Homo sapiens: one gene and its partners. The protein of the gene in region 5 purifies or fractionates together with the protein of the main gene of each other region. This does not show direct contact. Each region holds a gene or a part of one and is shown on either strand. Other genes may lie near its edges. The genes, in order: ATP12A, TTK, ECPAS, SPCS2, TREM1, TUBGCP2 and ASB9.

The links.
Region 1: the proteins of TREM1 (region 5) and ATP12A purify together in Homo sapiens (affinity purification with mass spectrometry; one large-scale study listed by BioGRID and IntAct). This does not show direct contact.
Region 2: the proteins of TREM1 (region 5) and TTK purify together in Homo sapiens (affinity purification with mass spectrometry; one large-scale study listed by BioGRID and IntAct). This does not show direct contact.
Region 3: the proteins of TREM1 (region 5) and ECPAS purify together in Homo sapiens (affinity purification with mass spectrometry; one large-scale study listed by BioGRID and IntAct). This does not show direct contact.
Region 4: the proteins of TREM1 (region 5) and SPCS2 purify together in Homo sapiens (affinity purification with mass spectrometry; one large-scale study listed by BioGRID and IntAct). This does not show direct contact.
Region 6: the proteins of TREM1 (region 5) and TUBGCP2 purify together in Homo sapiens (affinity purification with mass spectrometry; one large-scale study listed by BioGRID and IntAct). This does not show direct contact.
Region 7: the proteins of TREM1 (region 5) and ASB9 purify together in Homo sapiens (affinity purification with mass spectrometry; one large-scale study listed by BioGRID and IntAct). This does not show direct contact.

The regions. Positions count from the first base shown.
Region 1 is NC_000013.11:24,707,722-24,711,859, reverse strand, and holds part of ATP12A (potassium-transporting ATPase alpha chain 2), read right to left. Parts: intron 2,497-4,138; coding exon 2,373-2,496; intron 2,178-2,372; coding exon 2,032-2,177; intron 1,401-2,031; coding exon 1,267-1,400; intron 1,069-1,266; coding exon 967-1,068; intron 543-966; coding exon 451-542; intron 367-450; coding exon 338-366; 3' UTR 1-337. UniProt on the Homo sapiens protein: The catalytic subunit of a H(+)/K(+) ATPase and/or Na(+)/K(+) ATPase pump which transports K(+) ions in exchange for Na(+) and/or H(+) ions across the apical membrane of epithelial cells.
Region 2 is NC_000006.12:80,024,937-80,029,074, reverse strand, and holds part of TTK (dual specificity protein kinase TTK), read right to left. Parts: intron 2,698-4,138; coding exon 2,561-2,697; intron 1,191-2,560; coding exon 1,064-1,190; intron 1-1,063.
Region 3 is NC_000009.12:111,368,875-111,373,012, forward strand, and holds part of ECPAS (proteasome adapter and scaffold protein ECM29), read right to left. Parts: intron 3,747-4,138; coding exon 3,555-3,746; intron 2,956-3,554; coding exon 2,747-2,955; intron 1,892-2,746; coding exon 1,848-1,891; intron 1,754-1,847; coding exon 1,561-1,753; intron 300-1,560; coding exon 161-299; intron 1-160. UniProt on the Homo sapiens protein: Adapter/scaffolding protein that binds to the 26S proteasome, motor proteins and other compartment specific proteins. May couple the proteasome to different compartments including endosome, endoplasmic reticulum and centrosome.
Region 4 is NC_000011.10:74,965,830-74,969,967, forward strand, and holds part of SPCS2 (signal peptidase complex subunit 2), read left to right. Parts: coding exon 1-94; intron 95-3,735; coding exon 3,736-3,870; intron 3,871-4,138. UniProt on the Homo sapiens protein: Component of the signal peptidase complex (SPC) which catalyzes the cleavage of N-terminal signal sequences from nascent proteins as they are translocated into the lumen of the endoplasmic reticulum.
Region 5 is NC_000006.12:41,276,274-41,280,411, forward strand, and holds part of TREM1 (triggering receptor expressed on myeloid cells 1 isoform 1 precursor), read right to left. Parts: exon of another isoform or gene 3,264-4,138; intron 1-3,263.
Region 6 is NC_000010.11:133,295,271-133,299,408, forward strand, and holds part of TUBGCP2 (gamma-tubulin complex component 2), read right to left. Parts: intron 2,842-4,138; coding exon 2,682-2,841; intron 2,135-2,681; coding exon of another isoform or gene 2,051-2,134; intron 1-2,050. UniProt on the Homo sapiens protein: Component of the gamma-tubulin ring complex (gTuRC) which mediates microtubule nucleation.
Region 7 is NC_000023.11:15,263,436-15,267,573, forward strand, and holds part of ASB9 (ankyrin repeat and SOCS box protein 9), read right to left. Parts: intron 1-4,138. UniProt on the Homo sapiens protein: Substrate-recognition component of a cullin-5-RING E3 ubiquitin-protein ligase complex (ECS complex, also named CRL5 complex), which mediates the ubiquitination and subsequent proteasomal degradation of target proteins.

The DNA of each region.
Region 1 (4,138 bases), on a different chromosome or scaffold from region 5:
GCAGGCCCCAGTAGATGCCTGGGTTACACAAGACTATTAACATCAAGGAGTTTCAAATACACATAAACACATTCTTCCCTATACCATTACCTCGAAATGTACGTATTTTTTAATGAGGAGATGGAGATAGAAAAGAAAATCCTATATAAAGAGTTGAATTTCAGTTTTAAAGTGCAAAACATCAGTGAGCATCCTGCATACAGCTTTCTGCATGAAAATTTCCTCTTGTCTGAATTTTGACGATGTCTGCACTGCAGGGGAATAGCCCAGCAAACGGTCAGAAGATGAACAAGTGTGCCCCAACGTGCTGCTGAGAGACATAGGAAGGGAGGTGGTCTTAATAATACATGTTCTTATCCCACCAGCCTGTAGAGGTAGAAAAAAGTACATCAGAAATGGAGAGTCTGTTGAAGTGGGTAAACAGAGCCTCTAAAATCATAGGCTACTCACTTCCAGGGTAGAGCCTGATGAAGAGCTTCCGCACCTCATCATACACCCAGATCAGGATGGCGTGCGGCACAGCCACAAACCAGTACTGAGCCCTGGAAGCAAAGGGATGGAAAGTGAACCCTGACTCATCCACAGGGATAGCCCAACCCTGCCCAATGGGAATGGGGCTTCTCGTTCATTTGTCTTGCTTTACTGCAAAGAACGACAAATCCACGAGGTCCCACAAAATAAAGGTGGAAAGCTCCTTGTTTAACCTGCACTGTGACTGCTAGAAGCAATGTCTGCCTTTGAAGCAACCTGTTGGATGAGGATGAAGGCCGGTTGGTGAGGTCTAGAAAACCCATTTCCACTTCTGGAAAATGCAGATCAAAGCTTTGGGCTCACAGAGCATGGGATCAGTTTGACGTCTTTTGAAAGACTTGGGGAAGAACCCTGGGAATCCTCAGGTTTATTTAGGCTGCGACAGCTCAAAGCAGAGGCTGGCTCTTTCCTCCATGCTGTTGAGGGTGAACTCACCTAAGCATGGTGAAACTCAAGGCTGTGACACTTCCGAGGCCATAGGAGAGGATCAGACCAATGATGATCTGTGAGGTGATCCCCACCCAGATGACTTTATTTCTGCAAGACACACAAAAGCAGACAGACTTGGGATTCTTGTGGCTTCATGATCATACACCCAGCAGACCATGCCACCAGAAAAATCAATGCCTCTGGGGTTACAAGTGTGGCCAGAACTCTGTCTTGTGAAAAACAAATCATCATCATCCTTGCACGGCAGGCCCAGGGCTGCCCCAGGAGGCCGGGCACAGGCAGTACCTGAAGAGACCCTGCTGGAAGATGGAATTCCTCCGGGTTTTCCTGATGATCAGATCTGCTATTTGCTGGACTAGGATGCCAACAAAGAAAGCCGTGTAGCCCGTCCATTCTAGGTATTCCCTCTGGTACCTTGTCTGTTAATGGGCAGAGAAGGAAGAGACCTTGAGGCCTAAAGGAAAACTTCTAGGAAATTCCAATGCAGTTCTCTAAAGCTTCATGTTCTTTCCACACCTCACCCGGACTGAGAATGGACCACCTTCTAGTGTTTGGAAAGAAACATTTTTCTTTCTTGAACCAGCTGAGTAGAGAAAAATGTTAATTTTTTAAAAAATTATCATTACTATTATTTCTAACACAGGCAGGGTCTCACTGTGTTGGCCAGGCTGGTCTCAAACTCCTGGGCTCAAGTGATTCTCCCTCCTCAGCCTCCCAAAGTGCTGGGATTATAGGCATTAGCCACTGCACCCGGCCTGAAAGATGTAAATTTATTTGGCCGCACTGTGGGTGTGGCTGGGCTGGTCACTCTTCTATACCAATGGCAAAGCTAAGGTAAAAAAAGGGACCTCTTGTCATCTAGCCCAAGACAGGAGGCTGTGCCATGAGACCTGGCAAAGGCCAAACACGTGTCAGCAAGGGGGCCCTGAGCCCTATTAATTGAAGCTTTCCCAGGCTGTTCAGGGACATGGAGGTTCTATGTAATTCTGCGCAGGGCAATGAGCATGGAGAGAATCAGGTGGACTCTGCAGCAGGGCTCCCGCCACTCACCCATTCCTGCCCATAGCTGTCTTTCAAGTCATTCACGTAGTCCTTCTCCCATTCTACCCGCAGGTTAATGAGAGTGCGGGGCAGAAAGCCCTCTTGTGCATAGACGGTGAAATACACAAGGAAAGCTCCCAGGGCTTGCATGAGGCCTGAAAGAACAAGAGAGATAGGACACAGGTTCTATGATGGCCTCAGGAAACTGCCTCATCCTGTCTACTCTCGGTTCCCCCTCCCTCCCCAACCCAGGCCCCACAGGAAAACCACACTTTCTGGCTGTGCCCCCCACTCCAGTGAATTCTCGGGGCAGGCCCTCGTGTGATGGGGAAGACGCGCCCTCATCGTACCAATGTGCAGGTATGAGTACACAGCGAGCGGCTGGTTCACCAGCCTGTCCTTATTCTTGTGGCGAGGCTTCCTGTTCATGATGTCACTTTCAGCTTTCTCGTACGCCAAGGCAATGGAGGGGATCTAGAGGGGAAGAGGCTGGTGAGGTCTAACCCCAGGATGTTCTGCTCTACCCACAGTAGGGGAGGGGGGCTGGGGTGGGTGGGGCACTGGCTGGATGGGGTGGGGGGCATGGAGCTGGCCCATCCAGGCTATAGGCAGTAGAGGGCGTGTTGTCTGTATGGAAATTTAAGAATAGTGCCTTTAGAAATCAGCTGCTTTTTATCACCCTGTGCTGGCAGTTCTGAAGGATGCTGGTTATAAAACACTCTTCCCCTACAGGGAGAATTTCTTGTGCCGTCCTCTCCCTCCAGGTGGGAGGACCTGCTAAGAGACAGATCATTGCGCCCCACCTCCAGACTTCCCAATTCAGGAGGACTGGGCTGGGGCCAGAGAATTTGCATTCATTTCTCTTTCTCTTTCCTTCTTTCTTTCTTTCTTTCTTTCTTTCTTTCTTTCTTTCTTTCTTTCTTTCTTTCTTTCTTTCCTTTCTTTCTTTCTCTTTCTCTCTCTTTCTCTTTCTCTCTTTCCCTCTCTCTCTTTCTCTCTTTCTTTCTCTCTTTCTCTTTCTTTCTTTCTCTTTTTTAAAAGACAATGGGTGTACAACCTATTTCCATTCCTAGCCCAGTTATCTGGAATAAGATTTTTATTTTATTTGTTCTTAATTTTTATTTTTTAAGAGACTAGGTCTCTCTGTGTTGACCAGGCTGGACTCAAACTCCTGAGCTGAAGTAATCCTCCTGCATTGGCCTCCTGAGTAGCTAGGCTACAGGTGTCCACCAGTGCCCAGAGTGTGCATGTCTAACAAGTTCCCAGGTGATGCCCGCACCAGGCCTGGAGAAGCACTGCAGCAGAGCAAAGCAGGCAAATGTGAAGGGCTTGGAAAATGATCCATCAACTTTGGGGACCTCAATACCCCTCAAAGGGAAAGACATCTCCAGTCTCTCTAGGAATTAGGGATTACCTGGGTGTTGTAGAAAACAAGAGAGGGGAAGGGGGCAATTTGAAGGGGAAGGGGGCACTTCGAAGGGCCAGTTTCCTGCTAAGAATTCAGCTTGCTGTCTGTTGCTTTCCCTGCTTGCCCACGTAAGCCACAGCCACATGGGCAGCTTAGACGGGGCTTTCTTTAAATGGATACTGGAAAAGGGGAAGGTTTAGGTGACATTACTGTAGGGCAAGGCTTTATAAAGTCTTCATAACTGCTACTTCTTACTGTGTTTAGGTAAAGGTCTTCCATGTCAGACTCTCTTACTTAACAAGAGGTGGCTGTGAGATTATCACTTTAGTCACTGGGCCCCCAGTGGTTATTTGGGTGATTAATCTGAGTGACAGCTTCATCTTCCCAAAAGAAAAGGGAAGCCCATAGGCTGAAACTGACCAATGGCATTTCTTTTTTTTTTTTGAGGATGAAGACTCATGTCTTGAAAAGCTTGCTATAGCTCAGGTGCAGTGACTCATGCCTGTAATCCCAGCACTTTGGGAGGCCGAGGCAGGTGGATCACTTGAGGCCAGGAAACCCCATCTCTACTAAAAATACAAAAATTAGCCAGGTGTGGTGGCACAAGCCTGTAGTCCCAACTACTTGGGAGGCTGAGGTGGAAGAATCACTTGAGCCTGGGAGGCGGAGGTTGCAGTGAGGCAAGATAGCACCACTGCACTCTAGCCT
Region 2 (4,138 bases), about 39 Mb from region 5:
AATAACAATTGCTACTAACATTTCTGATTTACTAAGTGTCATGCTCTGTATTAGGAGTTACGTCTATATTAACTAATTTAATCTTCACAACCATCCTAGGAGGTAGTTAGCTTTACTAATTTTATAGATAATGAAATGGGCACCGAAAATTTAGGTAACTTGCAAAAGATCACACAGACTGTAAGTAGTGAGGCTAAGATTCATGCCCAGTGTCTCCAAGGCCCATGTTTTCTACCAGTATTAAGCTGCCTCTAGGACAGTTACTAGAAACCAACTTTTGCCTCATCAGCAAAAAATCTTTCCTCTTAGTTTAGTTATTAGTATAATACATTCTAGCAGTACCTCATATTGCTATTCTGATATTTTTGAAAATTTACATTTCCAAATGAATTGTATACTAACAAACAAAATGAAGCTGCTCACTAGCAGCTGACAAAACACAACAAAAAGTAACGCTGGCCAGGCGCAGTGGCTCATGCCTGTAACCCCAGAACTTTGGGGGGCTGAGGCGGGCGGATGGTTTGAGGCCAGGAGTTTGAGACCAGCCTGAGCAACATGGTGAAACCCTGTCTCTAGTAAAAATACAAAAATTAGCCAGGTGTGGTGGTGCGTGCCTGTAATCTCAGCTACTCGGGAGGCTAAGGCACGAGAATCGCTTGAACCTGGGAAGCAGAGGTTGTAGTCACCCGAGATCGCGCCACTGCACTCCAGCTTGGGCAATAGAGCGAGACTCTGTCTCAAAAAATAAATAAATAAATAAATAAATAAATAAATAAAAATAAAAAATAAAAGGTAACCTTGATTCATAAGAGAAATTTTATCCAGCTATTCAAACTGGATCCTTTGGCCTAGTTATTAAGAGTAGCTTCGTAAGCTTCTTCAATAACCAACCTCTCAAAGCCACAAGGCACACTCTTATTAGAATATCAGAAAAGTTTTGTCTAGTGGAAATAAGAATGGCCAAGTTCTTAAGACCTTTCTTGATAACTAGATGCTATAAAAATAAAAGCTGTAAAACGGACTGTATCTTAACATATACCATCATATATAAAGCTTATCGAACCTGTAAATTTTGAAGTGGAGTGGCAAGTATTTGATGCTGTTGCTGCTGGAAACAGGCAGGTTGGCCATAAGGTGTTGACAACTGACAAGCAGGTGGAAAGTCATTCTTTACAACTGGAGTTCTAAAACTAGGAAATATATATATATTTTTATTTAAAACATTACAATTTAACAAATAAGTCTGATTCAGTTTCATGTATTTTAGACTGATATAAACTTAAAAGTGTTACATCAAACAGAACCCAAGTTAGTTTTCATGATATAGCTGACACTTATTCCAGATATGCCACCACCGGATATTTAATTTTGGGGAATTCTTTCTGAAAGTAAATATTTGTATGCAGACAAGAAATCTTTGTTTGAAAAGATGGCATTTAAAATACAAAGTGGTTAGGGTTATTTTATATGAATTTAGCAAACATCAGCTTGTGGCCGGCCATAGATTTTGAGTTTTTTTTTAAACAATAATGTTCTATAATGGCTTGCTAGAAATATCAGAAAGCCAATTACATCACAGGAGTTTGGCCTTTGAGCTTAAATCTGTCCAGTATACATTTGTGCTTTGTTTGCCTTTTTGCTATTAATATATCCTCAACACCTAGAACAATGCTTGGCACAAAAGAGCTCCACAAATATTTGTTAACAATAATTAACCTAGTATCACAAGAAATATCTATTATCGCTATTTTAGTTAGCAATCATTCTTTAGAATATTCTACATATAATAAAATGAGGCAATATATAGTAAAACTATATTAAGTAGGTAAGAGGCTGGGTTATAAAATCTTTAAGACCAGTTCTAATTAAGATCAAGGATTACATTATGAAAATGAAACGCAAAAGACAACACGGATTTAAGCTATCCCCTAAGACATTAAAGATATAGCCACCGGTTGATGGTTATAATGTATCGCATCCCTTTATTTCCTTTCTCTGAAATGTCATTCATTTTCTTTTGTAGTATCCCTTGTGTTCCCTATCAGCACACTCATCATCGAACTTCTTCACTTATCCATCATTCCTATTCACTCAAATACTACACCTTTGAATACCTCCAGAACTACATGAACTGTAAAAACCAATCTCTTCCAGAAGCTATCACTTTCCAATTAACACCACTTATGTGAAAAAATTCATCTACTCTTTATCTGCTCTAAGAATGCTAACCTTTAAAATCTCTCTCTTAATAGAGAGATATCTGTATGGCAATACATGATTATCAAGACGTTTTACATCCTTAGAATATTTATAGGTTGTAGGTACAGATTACGATATGACAGAAACTACATGCACAACAATCCTTAAAAATATGCATTATTGCAACCACTTCCCCCTTTCCATTTTATAGATGAAAACACTGATGCTGAAAAAATAATATGAAGATGGAAAGTCTTTAAAGTAAAAGAGCAGGATTTAATCCCAGATTTATTTGGCCCAGAAGCCCATGTTAATTCTATCATACCACCCTGCCAATCAAGCAAGGGGCCAAAGTAATTACCAGCTCATGTAATCATCCAAGGTATTGCTGCTTGGTGTCTTACAAATAGATTTTGGGTCAAACCATTTAGATGTTGATATTGGTGGTGACTGTTTTGAAACTGAAAAGACAGGTTGCTCAAAAGTGGTATGTTTCTGCTAAAACAAAATAAAGAACACCATGATTTAGTTTTTAAATTAGTTGCCTGTTCACTAGTTTTTACAAATATTATAACTTTTAAAATAAAATAATAACATATGATATACAAAGGCATACTAAAAGAGATAGGCATATATATACATTTTAGACTTTCAATAATTTTTTTAGTGTAGTTATTTTACTCCAAATTCTTAAGCCTAGTGCATTCTGCTCAAACTGATGGCAAGTACAGGGAAGGCACACAAAATTACTTAAAACAGAATTTAACATTCTCTTCCATCAGAGCTATTGTAACAAGTATTAAATTCTTATCATCTAAAATAGTATCCTGTGTTTCTGAAAATCAGCCTTTCTTTAATCAATAAAACTCTATTCCCTTCTCCTCAAATGTAGACAAATACTAATTACTTAGCAAAATGTGGAATGACAAATGCCTATCTTGTGTCCTCCATAAGAAGAGACAGAACCTGTAGAAATTCTTTTTCCAAAAGCATTGTTGGGAAAAAAAAAAAAAAAAGAACCTATAGGATTCATCCTATACAAACCCCAAACAATGATGAAGGAACATCCGCTGCAGCAGAAATCAGCAAATTACAGCCTACAGGCTCAGGCTGAATGTGGCCTGCTGCCTGCCTATTTTTGTAAACAAAGTTTTATTAGAATATGGCTATGCCAATTTGTTTACATATTGTCTATGGCTTTTATTTTCATGCTCTAATGGCAGAGGTGAAAAGCTACAACAGAGCCCATCTAGCCTGGAAAGCCTGCTAACCCTTTACATAAAGTTTGCTAACCCCTGCTGTAGCACATCTCAATTAAATAGAGAACCAAGTTTTGCTTGAATACTTTTAGTAACTAAGCACTCACTAGTCTACAGAGGTTCACTTCAATTTCAGGACAGCTTTAGTTATTAGAAAATATTTGCAGATAATTTGGATTATATTGGTTTATCTATTATAATTTCAACACACTGGTCCTCATTACGCACTTGAGAATTACAATGACTAAATCTATCCTACTTTCTACATTTCAGTCTTGGCCAAGAAATTTTTTTTCCAGGATAAATTTTCCCTCTCATTTAAGACTTCGTGTGTCTGTGCTCACGTACAAGCACGCACATATTTTAAGATTAGTGGTAAAGATGTTACTGAGGAACTGCTGTAATAAGATTAATGAACAAGGAAAATGAAAAAGATCACGATCATAGAGTGGAATGTTAGCATCTGCGATTTTGGAGGTCAGAATTGAGGATATAAGGAGTAGGTGGCTAAAGTAAAATTAAGGAAATGGTCATGAGACACGAAGAAGTTAGAAAAATGAAGGCCAGCTGTAGGACTGGTAATACACAGGGGTGTAGAAGCCAACAAAAACAATGACAGTTGTTGGGATCTGGTTGATCCAGAGCCTTGTATCTTCAAGGAATGATGGGGAGTTACCAGG
Region 3 (4,138 bases), on a different chromosome or scaffold from region 5:
ACAGACTCATGTAGACAAAAAACTTTCACTGGATAATTCTCATTATTAATCAATCAGGCTCGATAAGAAACAATAACTATAATTTGTCATAGAGAAAATTCTTCGCTCTCATTAAGTAACCTCTGGTTACAGCACTTCAAATGCAGTTTCTGGTGCTTACGTTGGGTCTCCGCGTTTCGCGGCCAGGCTTTGCCCAGGCTTTCAAAGGCACCCAGCAGATATTCCAGCTGGAGCTCCTTTTCCTTTTCATTCTCCTCTTCATTTTTGGTTGTCCGGACCCCACTGCTTTCAAGTGAGTTCTAGGATATATCAAAGAAAAGAAAATGTAATATTTTCTTCTTCAAAGTTACAGGTATACTATTAAAGCTATCAGGGTACCAACCAAGGCAGGAGATATTAACCAAGAGTTAAATGATAAATTCTCTACCATAAGTTTCCCTATTTACAACAAGAATTTATAACCAGAATACTGTATCTCTAATAAATTTAGGCAATACTTTACAGGCATCTGTAAACAAAAGCTAAAAAATACTGCATATGTAGTCTTTTGAGCATAACATGAAAAGACTTGCATTAGAATCAGATTTTAAAGATGGAAGAAACTCAGTAATGATCTAAATCCAAACTCTTTCTTGATAGAGAAACAGAGGCTAAGAGAAGCAACTGGTCCAGCTTGCTAGTGATGTAATCAACTTAAAACACAAGTCTCCCAAATCCATATGCTATCACTATGTTTGTAATGGAAATTATTTAAATAGCCTTATTACTGAAAGAAAACAACTGCAATTTAGGAGCAATAAGAAATAAGAATGTTACTTAAAATATTTCATGTTTCACAAATAAACAGGGAAACCACACCCTTTTTTTTGGGGGGGGGACCAGTGCCCAACTTTTAAAAATGAGTATTCCATTTTCCACATGAAACTTGAGTCTTTTTTTGACCCAAATCCTCCACTATATGGCAGAGGCAATTCACATGGCACACTGAGCTTCTTGCCTTTACTCTAGGATGGCTGGGGTGGCTTAGCTTATTAGCCAAGGCAAAGCTTATTATGACATAAACTGTTCATTCACTACCAAATCCACTCTCCCCTTCTCCCATGGAGGGCAAATGGACACCCAGAATGAAGACTCAGTCTGCTGCCAGGTGTGGCTAAGTACTGACCAACAGGATGGCTATAAGTCAAAGTGCCATCTAGCGGTGCCCAGGAACTCTCCTCAAGAGAGACATGGCATGCCCACTGTATCCTTCATCCTTGCTTCATCTCCTCTGCATTCCTGCCTAGAACACAAACACACTGTGGACCATGAGGATGATGACCACACCCTAGAAATGGCAGAGTTCAGAGCTGTAAAGAGACGGAATACCTGAACACTTTGTGATGCTCCCAACGCTTTGTGAGAAACATAGCATTGACTATCTTGTTTAAGGCCGTATTTTGGAATTTCTCTGCTACTTGCAGCTAAACTAATCCTAATAATCAGGACATAGGGGAAAACAATTTTTTAACTTTTTCTTTTTAAAGTATAAACCAGAACTGAGGATACAGGTGGTATTACCTTCTTGATGAGAGGTATGACAATGTTAGAGAACTCCTGGAATCTGTCCTCTTTGGTGGCCTTCAAGATATCAGCTGCACAGCTGATTGCTACAATCTTGTATTTGACATTCTCTTTGCTACATTCCTTCAGAACAGCTTGAAGAATTTCATTTGTGCTGGGTTGATTGGGCACAGACTTTTCCAGCTCTGCACTACAGGGTCCATACAAAAGCATCAGAAGTTAATAAAGGCTGCAGTTTTCGGGTCCAGTTTAAGAAATGGCATCTTCATTGAAAGAACATTTACCTGCAAGCTGTCACCACACAGGCAATGGCTTTCAATAGCTCCTCCTAAGGGGTTGAAAGATGAGGAAATACTATTAAGCCCAAACATGTCATTTACACTGTCTAAACCATGATTACAATTACCTTAGGAATTTTTGATAACTATGACAACAAAAATTAACAACAGTCACCTTATCTTTAATGCATAATTTTAAGCACATCCACCAAGTTTTACTCCAAACCATGGATGTAGGATAATTATCTTCACCTCCATTTCATAGAAGCCTAAAGAACTGATTCGACCCAGGTCTCACAGAAAACAGTGTCAACCACAGAATTGGAATGATGTCTGACTCCCAGTCCGGTACTACTTCATTCCTGCATGGGCCACTATTGACCTTTACAACATAAAGATCATTAGGTTACCACAATCTCATGTTCCCCACTGAGTGTTCACTGTTAAGAATCCTACTAAAGCTCTTGTGTAAAAAAATAACTGTTACTAATTCATAGGTCCCAGAGATGGGCATCTTCAGCCCCAGGTTTAGAGGCAGGCTACCTTGCTACTCTATTTCACATATGCCCAATCCTGATCTTTCTATGCCCAATCCTGATCTGTTCATGAGGTCAACAGGTACAAAATGCTGACAAGTTGGTTTAAGACGTAACTTGGAAGGCTGAATATGGAAAATGTATCTATCTCCAGCATTACTGTCCATTATGCAAGGCCACACGGGTTGCAGTTTGAGAGGAAATACCACAGTTAATCAGGCAAGGTTTACCCAAAGCTTCCACTGTCTAGGAAATCTAGTTCACAAAAATAATCCATTGGAAAAGTTACACAAAACCAGATCGTTACTATTATGCAAAATGAAAGATGAAGTCAGAATCCCTTTAACTGGGTATGAATGGTTCCTTTACCTTTCCTGCCCACGTTCTTCCAGCCAGGCCTTGCAGCAATGCGGTCAGTATCATTCCGAGATATGGAGGTACTAGAGAGCTAGTCTGTTTTGCAATTGATGCCATGGCAATTGCACCCTGGGCTTTCATTTTCCAGGACTGAGACTGCAAAGCCTTCTGGGTAATAGTAATTAACTCCTGCAGGTATAATCGAATGCCACCAAAGGATCCTAGGAAAGCAAAATTAAAACAACTTTTAAGTGACAAGAAAAATTAACTGATTTTTCTAAACCTGAAAAAAAGTCAGTGACCAACAGTCTAAAAGCAGTGACTCTCAACTGTTAAAACACACCACTCTCTCAAAGGGAGAGAAAGTGTGTTGGTGTTGTGACTTATTCTCACAATAGTAGAACTTTACGAACTTGGGTGCCCACAGGAACGTATCACACAAATGGGCATCATCAATTAATATGCGACAAGGTGAAAAACACATTTAGAAAACTACTCTAAAATACTCTAAGGCCACATAAAATCACACTCTTAATTAAAAATGTAAAGCTCTCCTTGCTCACAGGGTTTATATTCTCTCATGTGGGCAGTGATGAATGAGTAAAGACAAAAATCCTGAGTGCCAACCTTGAGAACTCAGCAATTTGGATGGGTTCAAAACTAAATGGGATGAGCAATTTGGATGGGTTTAAAACTAAATGGGATGCATATTAAGGTCCTGGGAAAGTAACTTCAGAGGAGTTTATGAATAACGAATGCAAGTAAAAAATTCTAGCTGTGATTCCTAAGAAGCAGGTTTAACTCAGGCCACACTACTAACCAGGTACGTTTTCCTGCCACACTTCGGTCCATAAATTACATTCTTCTTTTTCGGATTTCTCCTCATCAGCAATTTCATGCATGCCTAAAAATGCCAGAGGCAGGACTTCTTTTGCATGATTCTTTAATACATCAGGGCTGTATCGTCCAATAGCATGAATAGTCAAAGCACAAGAGGTCTTGTAGATAGGTTCTGAAAAGGAGAAACCAAAATCTTTACGATATTTATTGTTTTTAAGGGTAACTGATCTAAACAGGCTATTGTTCAACTCATATAATAGCAAAACAAACAGGTAAAATCAATTAGAAATGTTTCTAGCAGGCTGGGTTGTGGTGGCTTACACCTGTAATCCCAGCACTTTGAGAGGCCAAGGTGAGCAGATAGCTTGAGCTCGGGAGTTTAAGACCAGCCTGGGCAACATGGCGAAACCCCACCTATACAAAAAATACAAAAATTAACCAGGCGTGGTGGCACGTGCCTGTAGTTCCAGCTACTCAGGAGGCTGAGACACAAGAATCGCTTGAGCCCAGGAGGCTGAGGTTGCAGTGAGCTGAGATAGCACCACTGCACTCCAACCTCAGCGA
Region 4 (4,138 bases), on a different chromosome or scaffold from region 5:
CAATCTCCTGTTTCTTTGCCATAGTGGCTTTGATTTGGGATTATATGCACCCCTTTCCAGAGTCCAAACCCGTTTTGGCTTTGTGTGTCATATCATATCCTTTATTTATGCTCAGGTTGTTTTCTAGTGACTATTTTTTTAAATCTGCTGATATTTCTCCCTACAAAAAACAAAACGGACTTTCATATTAGGGCTTGCTAATGTTAGAATTCAACATTTTGAGCTGTGATGTTTATATAGTAAATATCTATCAGTTTATATAGTAACTGTCACTGATATTTTATGTTTTGTATGGTTATTTTATCGTAATTCATTTTTGTTATTAATGTAGAGGTTATTGTCCTAATATGAGCACTTAATAGCAAAACACATAGTAATAGTGAACCCAGCTCTTCTCATTTCTAGCCCAGAACTTTTCCCGTTAGACGTGGCTGCTTCAAGCCACTCATTCTAGGATATTAGGAAAGGATCTGATTTTGGAGACTCAGATCTGTATTAAGTTTACTTGAAGCTGAGGAGCTGAACTGGAAAGTACTGAGCATGAGATACAAGTGTGGCTTGTATTACAGTGGAATTAAGAACTTATTCTGGAGCTAGAGAATATGGGTTTGAAATCCAAGGTATCTGTGATCTTGTGCTAATGAAAATTTACTTATTTTTGAGATGATTTGAATACCACTCATTTATAAATATGGGTAGCATTCAGAATTATCATAAAGATTAAATGAGAGATTTTATATTGTATTTGATACATAATCATTTCCTTTCCCCTCTTTTTTATGATAAATGTAAGATCATGGTCGTTGCCTACCCAGCGTGATTTTTTTTCTCAAGAAGTTGAATATAAAGAACTTAATTATACTTCACTATTAAAATAGGTAATTTTGGTTGGTAGTTTACTTTTTTAAACAATGTTACCACTACCTAAATTTTGTTTTGTTTTCTTTTTTTTGAGACAGGGTCTTACCGTGTCACCCAGGCTGAAGTACAGTGGTGTGATCATGACTCACTGCAGCGTCAGCCTCCTGGCTCGAGCAATTCTCCCACCTCAACCTCCTGAGTAGACGGGCACATGCCACCATGTCTGCCTAATTTTTAAATTTTTTACAGAGACAAGGTCCTACTACGTTGCCTAGGCTGGTCTCAAAACTCCTGGGCCCAAGCAATCCTCCCAAAGTGCTGGGATTACAGGCATAAGCCACTGTGCCCAGCCAACCTGAAATATGTTTTAAAACTTCATGTTGGGGATTTATCTTCAGAGGCAGTTAGCAAACCTCTGATAAAGCAGATCCTAGTCAAAAATTGTATTATCCAGATTGCCCCACATTTCCCCCAGAAGTGGCACCAGGTGATCCTTGACTCCTTTCAGTAATCAGATTAATCATCCCAGTATGAATTTTTCACTATTAAGGCAGTTCAGAAGAATAATATTCCATAGGTTCTAGAGACAGTTCCCAGGGGAATTCCAAAGAGATTTGAAAATGATAGCAACATTATTACAAATATCTGGCCTCCCAAGAGAACTACCTTGATGGTAATTCATTTGTTTGGTTATATTTGTTTAATAAAACAAGGTCTTATTTTTGTCATGTCAGTTTTATTTATAATGTAGGGACTACCATTATAAATGTCTTCTGTTGCTGGGCATCGTGGCTCATGCCTGTAATCCCAACACTTTGAGAGGCCAAGGCGGGCGAATCACTTGAGCCCAAGAGTTCAAGGCCAGCCTGAGCAACTTGGAGAAATCTGTCACTACTAAAAATACAAAAATTAGCTGGGCATGGTGGCGCATGCCTGTAGTCCCAGATAGTTGGGAGGCTGAGGCACAAGAATCACTTGAATCCAGGGGGCGGAAGTCACAGTGAGCCGAGATCTGCTACTGCACTCCAGCCTGGGCGATAGAGCAAGACTCTGTCTCAAAATAAATAAATTAATTAGATAAAATAAAAAATAAATTAGCTGGGTGTAGTGGCACACACCTATAATCCCAGCTACTGAGGAAGCTGAGATGGGAGGATTGCTTGAGCCTGGGATGTTGAGGCTGCAGTGAGCTGAGATCATGCCACTGTACTCTAGCCTGGGTGACAGAGTGAGACCCTGTCTCAAAAAAAAAAGTCTTCTGTATCCTAGACTGCATATATCCTTCATCTCTAAATCTCATGATAATTCTAAAACATCAGTATTATCCCAATTTTAAAGGTAAGGATACTAAGACTTGGGGAAGGAAGTTATTTGTTACAATCATACTGATTAAAGGCCAAGATTTAAATCTAGGATTATCTCTACTCTAAAGTCCATATACTTTGTACTATATTTTCCTGCCTTTCCTGTTCATGAAATTTATCTATTTTTTAACTCTTCTTTAATGGAATGCTTCATGAATTTGCCTGTCATCCTTGTGCTAGGGCCATGCTAACCTCTGTATCGTTCTAATTTTAGTATATGTGCTGCCGAAGCGAGCACTGTTCATGAAATTTATTTTTATTTTATTTATTTTATTTTTATTTTTTGATACAGGGTCTCACTCTGTTGCCCAGGCTGGAGTGCAGTGGCACGATCTTGCCTCACTATAGCCTCTGCCTCCCAGGTTCAAGTGATTCTCCTGCCTCAGCCACACAAGTAGCTGGGATTACGGGCCTGCACCACTACATCCAGCTAATTTTTTTTTGGTTTTTGTGGGTTTTTTTTGTTTTTTTTTTTTTTTGAGACAGAGTCTTGCTGTGTCACACAGGCTGGAGCACAGTGGCACGATCTCGGCTCACTGCAACCCTGCAACCTCTGCTTCCTGGGTTCAAGCCATTCTCATGCCTCAGCCTCCTGAGTAGCAGGACTACAGGCATGTACCACCATGCCCAGCTAATTTTTGTATTTTTGGTAGAGACATGGGGTTTCACCATGTTGGCCAGGCTCATCTCGAACTCCTGACCTCAAGTGATCTGCCCACCTCAGCCTCCCAAAGTGCTGGGATTACAGGTGTGAGCCACCACGCCTAGCCTTAATTTTTGTATTTTTAGTAGAAATGGGGTCTCCCATTGTTCCTTGTTGGCCAGGCTGGTTTCAAACTCCAGGTCTCAAGCAATCCACCTGCCTCGGCCTCCCAGAGTGCTGGTATTAAAGGTGTGAGCCATCGTGCCCAGCCTTGTTTATGAAATTTAAATGGCACAGTATACACAAAGCTCTTATGCCAGTTTTTGGCAAACTATAAGTGCTTATTAACTATGGTACTTAATACTGTCAAAAACAATATAATAATAAGTCTATATGCATATAGGAAGTAATCGTAGTACTATTTGACATACTCTCTTATAGTAAACTATTTGGGTCACTTTTCTTCTCTTAATAACCCTTAAAATCAGTTGAACATGGTCAAGTCCACTGGGACTATTCGTTGTTTTTTATAAAGAAATAAGCACTATTATAACAAAGTCTTGACAAACTAGGTATCTTATTATACATGTTGTCTTTGAACATAAAGATGAGAGCTAGTTTATGCTCTGTATCTTTTTCTTTTCTTCCTTTCTGAGGTGTTTGCAGAATTAACCAGAGAGAGCCTTGCTTCTCTTGGTATATAAACATAAGGATGAAAATGAAATAGCTAAATTTTCAGTGTTTTGGCAGCAAGACAAAGCTGTCTTCTTTAGGACTATCATTATGAAAGTTTTTATATCTGTTGCTTGTCAATTTGTGTTACTTCTCTTTTATGTTTGGGTATTTTCCCCTTAACTTTATTTGAACCTATTTTGTGATGATGGGGATTCTGACCATTTATACCTCATATAAGGAGAAGAGCATCTTTCTCGTGGCCCACAGGAAAGATCCTACAGGAATGGATCCTGATGATATTTGGCAGCTGTCCTCCAGTCTTAAAAGGTATGACTATCCTCACAGATTTTTAAATCCTGGTGTTGGATTTGCCCTGGCATGTTGTCATTATCAACAGAAGACTTATTATGTGCCTACTCTATGTGGATCATAGGGCTAGTCATATAAAATGAAGAAAGGAGTATGGATGATCTAGAAGGTTTGTCCTAGCCCTATAGTTCTGAGATTGCGTTATCACAGAAATGCTCTGAGGATAAACTGTGGGAGAAGGTACTTTTTCCTGTGGCCAGTTAACAGAGACGATTAAGCATACAAA
Region 5 (4,138 bases):
TCCCACACGCACATGTTCCCTCTAGAAAATGCCTTCATGTCCCACTCTCCTCTGCTTAGATCCTTGCTCCACCTTTCCCGCACTGCCTGACCCTGTGCTTTTCAGTCTGTCTCATTGCCAAAAACTACTGATTAGAAACAATTCAGTGGAGAGTATAGGTCCCTGTCCAGGAGAGGCACTGGAGGGAGACAGTCGGGCTGATCAGCCCATCCTCCTCCCTGTGATGTGGTAGGGAGAGAGGACTCTGGCCAGGAAACCCGCTCTCTATTCTCAGTACCGTACCCTGCCTACTGGGATGGTCATCTCACCTCTTTAGCTCGGTTTCCTCACCTATAAACCGAGAAGAATCCACCCGTAGTGAAAATCTCATCATGAATTTTATAGATTTTGGCGAAATGATTCTAAGGTTTCTGGGTAAACATCAATAGGTATCATAATAAAAAGATGCAAAGGAGTGAGGGCACTTGGCCAGTTCCATCAGCAGACATGCAAGCAGATGAGAGCACAAGGATGTGGCATGGTAAGACACAGGGACAGACAGATGGCAATGGAACACAAAGGCCAGATGCAGAGCCAGTGCTATGCAGGAACATAATGTCTAAGGAAATCAGAGGTCCAGTGGATAAGCCGGACGTGGTAGCATGCACCCATGGTCCCAGCTACTTGGAGAGGCAGGAGGATCATTTAGTAAATAGTCTTGCAGTATCTGGACAGCAACATGGTAACGGTGTAGGCTTTTCTACAGTTTATAGCATGTAGCAGAATAAATCTTCCCCCGGACTAAACATTTAAATAAAATAAAAAAAAAACAATCCAAGAAAAGTCACCAGGAAATAGAATCAAACACATTAAGGAATAAAGCAAAGCAATTGATTTAAAATCAACACACCCACCTATACAAAACTTAAAACCACATGCACAAACTAGCAAAGAGGGAAACGGCGTAAAGGAGCTAGAAAGCAGAAAACTGCCTATTTGCCTGAAATCCACCCCCATTCAAGGGCCCTGACTTGTAGCACAGGGGACTACATTCCCAAGCCTGACTGGTCGAGTTCAGCAACTGGTGGGGGACAGGGGGCAGAGACGGGGGCAGGGATGGGGCAGAGAGACAGGCAGCAAGGGGCAGGGAGCCAGCATCTCTCTCACCCCTCACATGGTGGCGCACTCAGCATCCTCAGCATCTGCCCCGATTCCAGTGCTGCAACCTGAATGTCCTGGCTTCCGGGCTCTGCTCACTGCACCTCCTCCCCAAGTCTCTCCTGCCAGTGCTCTGCATTATCCACTCTGAGTGCTTTACCATTTTCCTATGCTGAACTCCTGGGGCATGTCCACTCCCAACAGGCCACCATCTGCATTTTTTTCGAGGCTGCACACAAGCTACCAACCCCCTGAAGGGCCAGGAATTCATGTGCTTGGCCTTGGTTAGAGCTGCCCTTGCTCAGTTACTGCCCCTTATAGGGACAACTCCAAATGTGACCCAGGAGTCCCCAGAGCTCCTTAACAAGACTGAGCCAGAGTTATCCTGTGAGATACCCCTTGGTTATGACACGCTTGCTTGGCTTCCTTCCCTTCCTGGTCCCACTTCCTCAATGGCTTTGCCAGAAATCACTTCCTAAAACATTTTTCTTTTTGTCTTTTTTTTTTTTTTTTTTTTTTAGAGAGAAAGAGAGCAGGATCTTGCTCTGTTGCCCAGGCTGGAGTACAGTGGCTTGATCACAGCTCACTGAAGCCTTGATCTCCCAGGCTCAAGTGATCCTCCTGCCTCAGCCTCCCGAGTAGCTGGGACCATGGGTGCATGCCACCATGCCCTGCTAATTTTTTTATTATTTTTTTGTAAAGACGGAGTCTTGCTATGTTGCCCAAGCTAATCTCAAATTCCTGGGCTCAAGTGATTCTCCCACCTCAGCCTGCCAAAGTGCTGGGATTATATGTGTGAGCCACAACACCTAGTCCTAAAACATTTTAACAAGACTTTACAGCTTGCTTCTGGGGAAACTACCTAGAGATAGGGTGATAGTGGCTACCTCTGCAGTGCCTCTCCATCCCCAGGATAGCGTCTCAGCTCTTCCATCACCTGGGCAAACAATTCCCTGCATTAAATTCCTTCGTTTCATGGCTGGATGTGGTGGCTCACACTTGTAATCCCAGCACTTTGGGAGGCCGAGGTGGGAGGATCACTTGATCCCAAGAATTCGAGATCAGCCTGGGCAACACAGGGAGACCCCCATCTCTACAAAAATAATAAAAAGTATTAGCTGTCCTGGTGGTATGCACCTGTGGTCCCAGCTACTTGGGAGGCAAAGGTGGGAGGAGGTTGAGGCTACAGTGAGCCATGATCGTGCCACTCCACTCCAGCCTGATTGACAGAGTGAGACCGTGTCTCAAAAAAAAAAAGAAAAGAAAAAGAAAAAAAGCTTCTTCTTTTCAAACAGCTAGTGTGGATTCCACTTTCCAGACTGGATTTTGGCTGAAAGGATAGTTCATATTAGATGATAGATAAAGTTAACAGATAAAAGAGAGATGCAGTCTCTAGCAGCAAGGCAGGAGAATAGGGTCTGGAGGCAGGAACGTAAGACCAATTCATGCTGAATCATGGAGCAACACCAAGGTCTAGGGGCAAGAAATCTAGGATGGATTCGTGCTGACTTCCCATAGCTGGATCAAAAGGAAAACTCCTGGGGCTGGGGTCAGGGAACCTAAGGCCAATTAACATAAACTTTCTAAAGCTAAAACAAAAGGAAAAACCCCATCTCCCCATGCCCCAGCAGCAAAGAATCAAAGGCTACTCTCCCTACAGCCCTCCCCCTTCCACCACGTCTCAGCTGGAAAGGGAGAGTGTCTTAGATTGGCCCTGAGCCAAGCAGAGACGACCATCCCTTTACCCACAGAGGGCGCCAATTCACCTTAGCCTTTAGTTAGCCACAAACCAAATGCTTCATCCAGATAAGGGGTAACTGGGAGGAACTTCACGTGGAGTACTTAAAACCCAGAAAACTTTGTAACTTGGCCCTTGAGCCACTTGCGTGGGGCCACTTCTACCCTGGGGAGCGCTTTCTCGCTTAAATAAATTCCTGCTTTCACTGCTTCATTCCTTTGTTACTTTGTGCGTCTTCTCCAATACTTTGATTAAAAGGCCCAGAACCTGGACAGCTTACACTTAAGGCCCTCCTTCCGGTAAAAGTAAGAATATGGGCAAAGATTATGTTCTCTTAACTTATGTATTGCAAAATGAAAGTAGAGGAAAAAAAAAAATTGACTCTTAGTAGATCATTCGTTTGATTTATTCCACAGAAGTTTAATGAGCACTTTGTTCCCCAAACAACATAATGGGGAAAAAGGCACTGCCACTACCCATATGGAGGTGGAGTCTACACTCATAGAGAAATTAGAGCAGGCACCAGTTCACATTTGTTTTAGCAGGAATGTGATTTAACTCACACTATTTAATGATTTAAAAGACTAAATCCGTGTCTGTAAGCCTGCCATGACACTGCTTTATTTATGCTTAATGGATCACACTGCAAATTGTTTCCAATCTTTTGGAAGACCATTGGTAGATGCTATTTGTATACAAAATGATATCAGTGTTTAAATTATCTCATGGAAATTTCGAGTTAATTATTTAAAAGAAGAAAAATATATCTGCAAGAATATGTTTATCTCAGAGTTATCAACACTATATCAATGTCTAAGAACAGGCCAATGGTTATGTAAGTTATGGCTTTCCCAATTGATAGAAAAATATGCACTCATTGAAATTATATTTATGAAATTTAGGTAGCAGCATCAAAGAATAATTTCAGCAAGGAAAAGAATAAAAACATGTATAATTAGACTTACTGCCATATTAAAATATGTATAAACATGAATAAAGACTAGAAGAGAATATGAGAAAAAAGACATGTTAGACTAGTGGTGATGTGGAAAAGTATTTCCATCCTGATAATTCAGTATTTAATGATAAACACATTCTAATATAAATCAACATTTAATAACTGTAAAGAGGTGTGAAATTGCTAAGTTAGTGGTTCTTAAGTTTGCCTACACATTAGAAATCTCCTAAACATCTTATTAAAAATACTGAGAGGGACCTCATCTGCAAAAATTCTGATTCTATTTATCTATAATTGGGCACATG
Region 6 (4,138 bases), on a different chromosome or scaffold from region 5:
TCCCCGTCTCTACTGAAAATACAGAAATTAGCTGCGTGTGATGGTGCACACCTGCAGTCCCAGCTACTCGGGAGGCTGAGGTGGGAGAATCACCTGAGCTTGGGAGGTCGAGGCTGCAGTGAGCTGAGATTGTGCCACTGCACTCCAGCCTAGGCAACGAAGTGAGACCCTGTCTCAAGCAAAAAAAGAGTCAGTTGCTTCACCTCCCCAATATTCAACATCCTCAGTGTCATCTCAACACCTGCGATGTCACCTGCAAATCACCACGTCCGAACGACCACCGAACACGTGGCTCCTCCGTGCCGGTGTGGGGAAAAGGCAGGACGCGGGCAGATAACACCTTCGCATGCTGCGCGGGAGCGACCAGAGGGAGGGGCACTGCGGAGGCGGCGCTGGCCAGGTGGATGCCCACACGGTGAGGAGAGCATGGCGGGAACGTGGAGTGCTGGCAGCTGCCTCGTGCTCACAAGGTCCTGATGCTTTCCAAGGCACCTGTCCTCATCACACCACTCCACAGCTGTTTTCCAGAGGACGCAGGCCCGAGGTCACACAAGGTCCCGTGGTGTGGCACTGGTCAAATCGTGGGGTGAGGAGCTAGACAGGCCCCGGCATGAACACCACAGTGAGCTCCATTCTCAAGTCTGCACAGGTGGCACAAGGGGACAGGGACAGTGCGGACAAAGGGAGGCAAGGCAGCCTCAATACCGGAGGCACCCCTGGGACCTGTGGTATGTGGCCGTGGGAGGGAGGTGGGGCGAGGCCGCCCCTTTCCTGGGATGCTGAGTGTGCTGAGGGCACCTGCACCCTGACCTGAGAGCTGGCTGCAGGGTTCACAGCCAAGTCTCACACACTTGCTGCCAATCACCGCCACGCTCAGAGCTGCCCACGGCGCCGCAGCGTTACTGGACAGTGCGTTCCTCTTTTGTACAACCCCTTCCCTGAATGGGGAAACATGGGGGGAAAGCCTGAACACCCCCTCAGTGCCTCCTGCTCCAAAAAGCCGGCTCCACTGCTGGGATCCCAGGCAGCAGGGCCCCGCGCTTCCTTCTCCGAAGTCTGCCTGGGTACCATCAGGAGCTCTCAGGTGCCCACCACTCCCCGGCTGCCTGCTGAGTACCCGCTAAGGGAGCAGCTCTCTCTCCCTAAGTCTTCACAGTTGGGTTTTCACAGTTGGATTATTACTGAAAACACTGCACAAAGCAGACTGCTTTGTTTTTTTTTTTTTGAAACAGGGTCTCGCTCTGTTGCCCAGGCTGGAGTGCAGTGGCACGATCACAGCTCACTGCAGCCTCGACCTCTCAGGCTCAAGTGATCCTCCCACCTCAGCCTCCTGAGTAGCTGGGACTACAGGTGCACGCTACCACACTCGGCTAATTTTCACATTTTTTGTAGAGACTAGTCTCGTCCTGTCGCCCAGGCTGGTCTCGAATTCCTGGGCTCAAGGAATCCACGCACCTCACCTCCCTAAGTGCTGGGATTACAGGTGTGAGCCACCATGCCTGGCCGAAGTAGACTGTTTTCCATACTTTTCATTAACTTACAGCATGGTTTTCTATACTTCTCATAACTTACAGCAGGGTTTTTCTATACTTTTCATTAACTTACAGCAGGGTTCTGTTTGCTTGGGGATGAGGAAAACAGGTGGATTTCACGTCACCGTTCTCCAGGGTTTCCGGCAAAGGCAAGGGTTGGCCCCTTGGTGCCCACATTGCAGAGCCGTGAGTAGTGGGGAAGCAGACCACGCTCCATGCTGCCTCTTGAGTTTGGACTAACGGGGATGGGGCAAGATAAGCAGGTATGCTCTGTCCTTAGTTTGTGAAATCTCATTTTTCAATCTAAAAATGTACTTGACTAGGCGTGGTGGCTCATGCCTGTAATCCCAGCACTTTGTGAGGCCAAGGTGGGCAGATCACCAGAGGTCAGGAGTTCGAGACCAGTCTGGCCAACACGGCAAAACCCCGTCTCTACTAAAAATATAAAAATTAGCCAGGCGTGGTGGCGCCTGCAGTCCCAGCTACTTGGGAGGCTGAGGCAGGAGAATCGCTTCAACCTGGGAGGTGGAGGTTGCAGTGTGCCGAGATCACGCCACTGCACTTCAGCCTGGGCGACAGAGCGAGATTCCATCTCAAAAGAACTAAAAATAAATAAAAATAAAAATGTACCCATGAATTGTGACAGATGAACACATCCCAGGTCCCCAATAACAACGTCTTGAAATGACTGTGTGGTCTCACCCGCATCTTGTTTACACGAACACTACTTAAGAGGCCTCTGAGAATACTGCTGTAACAGAATCTATGGGAGTCATGAATCGCTGTTCAGAAATAAGTGCTGCACACAATTCTGATGCCTGCAGGTCTGCACCAGGGCACCAGGATGCCGGCTGGGGAGGGGCCTGCTGCAGGCTGCCCCACAGCTCTGGCAGAAGGGACAGGAGAAGAACCCTCAAGGACCCGGGTGAGCCGTTCTCTGCTGCCATCCTGGGATGGGAATATGGAGGCGGCAGCCAGTCAGCATTGAGCCTCACAACCTGAGGAAAGGCAGGCCCGGGGGAGGGCTGGGCCTGCAAAGTGTCCTGCCCAGAGGCCAGAAATAAACACATGACATACCTATCGGCAGAGCCCGGAAATCAACGCATCACGTACCTATCGGCAGAGCCCGGAAATCAACGCATCACGTACCTATCGGCAAAGCGGTGTCTGTGCTGATGCCAGCACCAATCAGGAAATCCCCGATCAGGGCAGGTCTCTCATACACCCATGCTGGGAAGATGGGGAGGTGCTGGCCTGAATTTTTTTTGTTCTGCTTGTCTCGAAGCATCTTTCTTTTAAGTTCCAGAGACTAGCAAGGACATTTTAAAAAACAAAACCAGAAAGATACACTTTAGCGCAAACACTCAACTAAAGACATGCATAGAAGCTAGCATCTACGGCAAAGATGATTACTCAATTCAACACCCACAAAGGGTCAACCACATAGAAATGAAATGCGCCTCGACATCCCTGCCTGCCACAACGTGAGGGGCTGGGGACAACAGGGCAGATGGGGAGCCCTAGCCCCTCTTCTCAGGAGTGCAGGTCCTGCAAGGGCCCCCCTGGGAAAACATGAGCACCAGCAGTGGGAACCACGGGAGAGGGTGCACCTAGGCACAGAGCCGCTGTTTCAAAGGAGGGCGCCCTGTGAACAAGCTGAATTGCTTCTTTCTGGCAGTGACTAGGTCTGAACACCACTTGATGGGTGAAGACAGGCTTCAGCAACAGACATGCATCCTTACCCTGCCGGAGAAGGGCCCCAGCGTGACAGGATGGCTCCTGACATGTGGTCAGAGAGCCTGCCCTCCTGCGCCAGTGGCCGCCAGAGGCTGATGGGGTCGGCCTGGGCTGGCCCAGCTTTCGGAAGCACTGACTCCCACTCAGGGCTGGTCAGGGACACGGGCAGATGCAAACTGTCTCTGCACGTGGCAGTAAGACCCAGTCTTCTGCCACGGCTGAGGGAGACGTGGACAGAGGCCTAGCACCATGTCCAGCACAGAACGTGCCCAGCAAGAACCGGCTGGGTCCTTGGGAGCCGCTGCACTCAACACGCACCCAGGAGGCTAGGACGCCTCAGGGACACAGCTCCAAAGGGAGTTTAAAGGTCACAAAGGCAGGAACGTGGCAGCTCTAATGAGAGAGACTGGGAGATGACTTACGTCAAAAGACCAGGGTAGGGCATAAAATCAAAACCAAGAGCAAGTAGCAAATACAGAAGGAATAATAAAAATTACTGTATTTTCGAGAATCTTGAAAATATAATGATCTGAAAGCATTCCCTCAAAATTGTCAAAAATTGGAGGAGGGAAATGGGGAGTCAGGATTGGGTAGGCTCAGAGTCACGTGGCCACCTGGCAGCACAACTCCCACGTGGGTCAGAACCTTGCTGCTATTGATTCTTGTGGTCCAGAATTCTTGGTTAAAAAAAAAACTAAACATATAGAGCTAGGTCATGATCAAGCATTAAGCCTTGGCCTCTCTAAGGGATTCATTTTCAATAAATGACAGAGAGACATGTCCTTCCAGCAGGGGCCCGGCACAGCACTGAGTGTGGGTGCCTGTGGACGCCACGGACACAGGACCTGCTGCAGCATGGAGCCTGTGGA
Region 7 (4,138 bases), on a different chromosome or scaffold from region 5:
ACAGTCAGAAACAAACAGAAAGGCCCACTGAGGCAACTCTTGGGCAAGTCAGGCCTGTCCACTGCAGTTCTTTCTCCAGTTCCATCATCCAGCCTCTCCTCTCCTCTTTCTTCTCTCTCTTCTCTCTCTTCTCTTTCCTGTCTCCCTCTCTCTTCTCTCTCTCTCTCTCTCTCTCAATATAAAGCTGCCTTCTCCAAAGGGCCCTCACATTATCACCCATTCTGTCTCAACAGGCAGGTTTTCCCCCAGAAAACTCACCCCTCCTGAGGTGCCCCAATATCTAAAAATTCACCATAAGACAATAAAATTGTTTTCTTTCAATACCTGTTCTAGCTTGTCTTCTGTTTAAATGTGAATACTCTCTACAGGGTGGGCTCAATTTTGCAAGGATAGAAATATCTCTACAGTTGTCAGTCTTCAGGCAAAACCCCAAAAGATAGACACTAACACTGGGAACAGTGATTACCTGCTTGGTGGAATTATGGGTGGTTAGTTTATCCTTCAATGTATTTTCCTAAGTTTCTATGAGTAGGTATAAATTAGCCTCCTAGGGATACCATAACGAAACACCACAAACTGGGTGGCTTAAAACAACAGAAATTTGTTGTCGCCGAGTCCTAGAGGCTAGCAGTTGGCTAGAAGTCTGAAATCAAGGTGTGGACAGGGCCATACTCTATCCAAAGGCTCTAGGGAAAAATCCTTCCTTGCCTCTTCTAGCTTCTGGCAGTGGCCATCAGTCCTTGGTGTTCCTTGGTTTCTAGATGTGTCACTCCTATCTCTGCCTCTGTTGTCACATAGCATTCTCCATGTGTCTCCTTCTCCTTTTCTTATAGGGACTCTGGTCATGTTGGATTAAGGTCCATCCTACCCTACTTACGACCTCACCTGAACTAATCTTAACTAATAAGGTCACATTCTGAGGCACGGGGGTTAAGAACTTAACCATATATATTTTCAGGGTACACAATTTAACTCGTAACAAGCTACTTTCAGGAAAAAATTAAGACATTCTTTCCCTGCTCCTTGGACAGGAGAGTCTAACATGAAACAAATCTCTATAAAGAGTTGGTTGCCCATTTTTATAGCCTTTCCTCCCTCCCTACCCCCAGGGAAGTGGGCAGAAAAACGCCTGCAGGTGGAGGTGGGAGCAGCAAGATGATCCACACCTGGGCCCTATTTTCCCCTCTAACTTGGCCTTGTGCAAAGGGACAAGCTTCACCTGAGCTGAGTTTCTTGGCACAGCTATTTGAAAACAGCATTCTGAGTGTTCCCCATTCCACACTTCACCAAGGTTAAGACCTCAGAAGCATAAACAAAAGCAACCAACTACAATTGAGGTTTTACCCAAGGGGCAGGACTGATGCAAAGCAGACGGAGAATGACTCCACTTGAGTAGGGAGAGGTGGAAAGTCTAGGAGGGCTTCATGGGGGCAATGGCTCAGCTGGGTGTAGAAGGTGAGTAGCAATTTGCCAGTCAGATTCACAACAGGAGGTAAGAAACCAGAAGTATCCAGGCACCTACCCTTGTGACTTCTACTTCTTTGAAAACTTCTCTTCCCTTAGCACCTGTGTAATTACAACATCCAGAATCTCTTTCTGCTTCTCTGTCCAACTTACTGGTCCTACTTCATCAACTGGAGGCCTGTCCCAGGGTTCCATCCTTGGTTGACTCTCAGCTCTTAGCCATTGGACAATTTCTCCCTTCCCTAGGTTTCAACCACAGCCCCTCTGTAGGACATTCTGAGGTATCTGGCTTCTAACCTGTGATCGTTCCTAAGTCTCAGTCCCATGTCATCATACTGTGCACTGGGCATCATTGTTAGCACTATCATGTCCAAAACAGAACTCTGTATCCTCCCCTCCTCATCCTGCATCCAAGGCAACTTCCTTTCCAACTTCCCTCTTATCTAGCTTATCTGACATTACTTTGGGCTTGAGAACCTTATAATTTTGCCTGCCTTCTGTTAGTTCCAACATTTAATCAAGCAACATACGCTGATTTATCTTTCCTTTGAAATCATCGCCCTTTCTCTGTCATTTCCAAAGTTCGATCCAAATGTAAGTTTCATGGTTGGATTAGTGCAGTAGTTTTCAAAGTATGGTCCCTGACCAGTACCATCCATTTCACCTGGGAGTTTGTTATGAATGCAGATTCCTAGGCCCCCACCCCAGGCCTACGACTTCATCAAAAGCTGCATCATCTGCATTTTTTTTTTTTGAGACAGAGTCTCGCTCTGTTGCCCAGGCTGGAGTACAGTGGCATGATCTCAGCTCACTGCAACCTCCGCCCTCCCAAGTTCAAGCAATTCTCCTGCCTCGGCCTCCTAAGTAGCTGGGACTACAGGCATGTGCCAACACACCCAGCTAATTTTTTTTTTTTTTTTTGAGACAGAGTTTCACTCTTGTTGCCCAGGTTGGAGTGCAGTGGTGTGATCTCGGCTCACCACAACCTCTGCCTCCCGGGTTCAAGCGACTTTCCTGCCTCAGCCTCCCGGGTAGCTGGGATTACAGGCATGCACCACCATGCCCGGCTAATTTTGTATTTTTAGTAAAGACTGGGTTTCTCCATGTTGGTCAGGCTGGTCTGGAACTCCCAACCTCAGGTGATCCGCCTGCCTCGGCCTCCCAAAGTGCTGGGATTACAGGTGTGAGGCACTGCACCCAGTCAAATGTTTGTATTTTTAGTAGAGATGGGGTTTCACCATGTTGGATAGGCTGGTCTGGAACTCCTGACCTCAAGTGATCCGCCCACCTCAGCCTCCCAAAGTGCTGGGATTACAGGCGTGAGCCACCGTGCCCAGCCAGAAGCTGCATTATCTGTATTTCAATAAGCTCTCCAGGTGATGTAGAGGCACATGAGAATTTGAGAACCACTGGATGAATGCAACCATCTCCCACGATTCCAACACAATCTATCCCAGCTGTGGCTACCATGTTAATTGACCTACAGCCTTATTACCAGGTCTCTGTTCTAGAACCACCAATGGCTCTCAATTTCCTGCCTCATGAAGCCTGACCTCCTCCACTTAGCTCTTCAAGCTTTATCTGCCACTCCATCTCTTCAAACTTGTTCTCACTAGACTCCCTAAGACATTCACATTTTGCACTCTAGCTGTAAAAACTTGTTGACTTTACAAGCACCATGCCTTTGCGTATAACACCTGCCCACTCCCACTCACCCACCCTGACCCCACCAGGGTTGTATTAGGAACTTTAGAAATCCTGAACAGTTGGCTCACGCCTGTAATCCCAGCACTTTGGGAGGCCAAGGTGGGTGGATCACGAGGTCAGGAGATTGAGACCATCCTGGCTAACATGGTGAAACCCCGTCTCTACTAAAAATACAAAAAATTAGCCGGGCGTGGTGGCGGGCGCCTGTAGTCCCAGCTACTCAGGAGGCTGAGGCAGGAGAATGGCGTGAACCCGGGAGGCGGAGCTTGCAGTGAGCCAAGATTGTGCCACTGCACTCCAGCCTGGGCGACAGAGCGAGACTCCATCTCAAAAAAAAAAAAAAAAAAGAAAAAGAAACCCTAACAGTGAAAAGTGGCTGGTGCCTCTCTCCCATGTGGAAACAAAAATAAATACAATACTTAGCTATAAAATAACCGTGCAGAAGTCAACCAAATTACCGATTCTTTCCCATAATGATTGGTTTGCTGTTTTAAAAATATATTTATCGGCCGGGCACAGTGGCTCACACCTGTAATCCTAGCACTTTGGGAGGCCGAGGCGGGCAGACTTCCCTGAGCTCAGGAGTTGGAGACCAGCCTGGGGCAACATGGTGAAACCCCGTCTCTACTAAAATACAAAAAAAAAACACCCCAAAAAATTAGCCAGGCGTGTGCCTGTAGTCCCACCTAGTCCCTGCCTCTCCCTCCTGAGGCAGAATTGCTTGAACCCAGGAGGCCGAGGTTGCAGTGAGCCGAGATGGTGCCACTGCACTCCAGCCTGGTAACAGAGCGAGACTCCATCTAAAAAAAAAATATATATATATATATAATTATATATATAATTCCTTGTAAAAAGTGGCCGGGCGTGGTGGCTCACGCCTGTAATCCCAGCACTTTGGGAGGCCAAGGCGGGCGGATCACGAGGTCAGGAGATTGAGACCATCCTGGCTAACATGGTGAAACCCCGT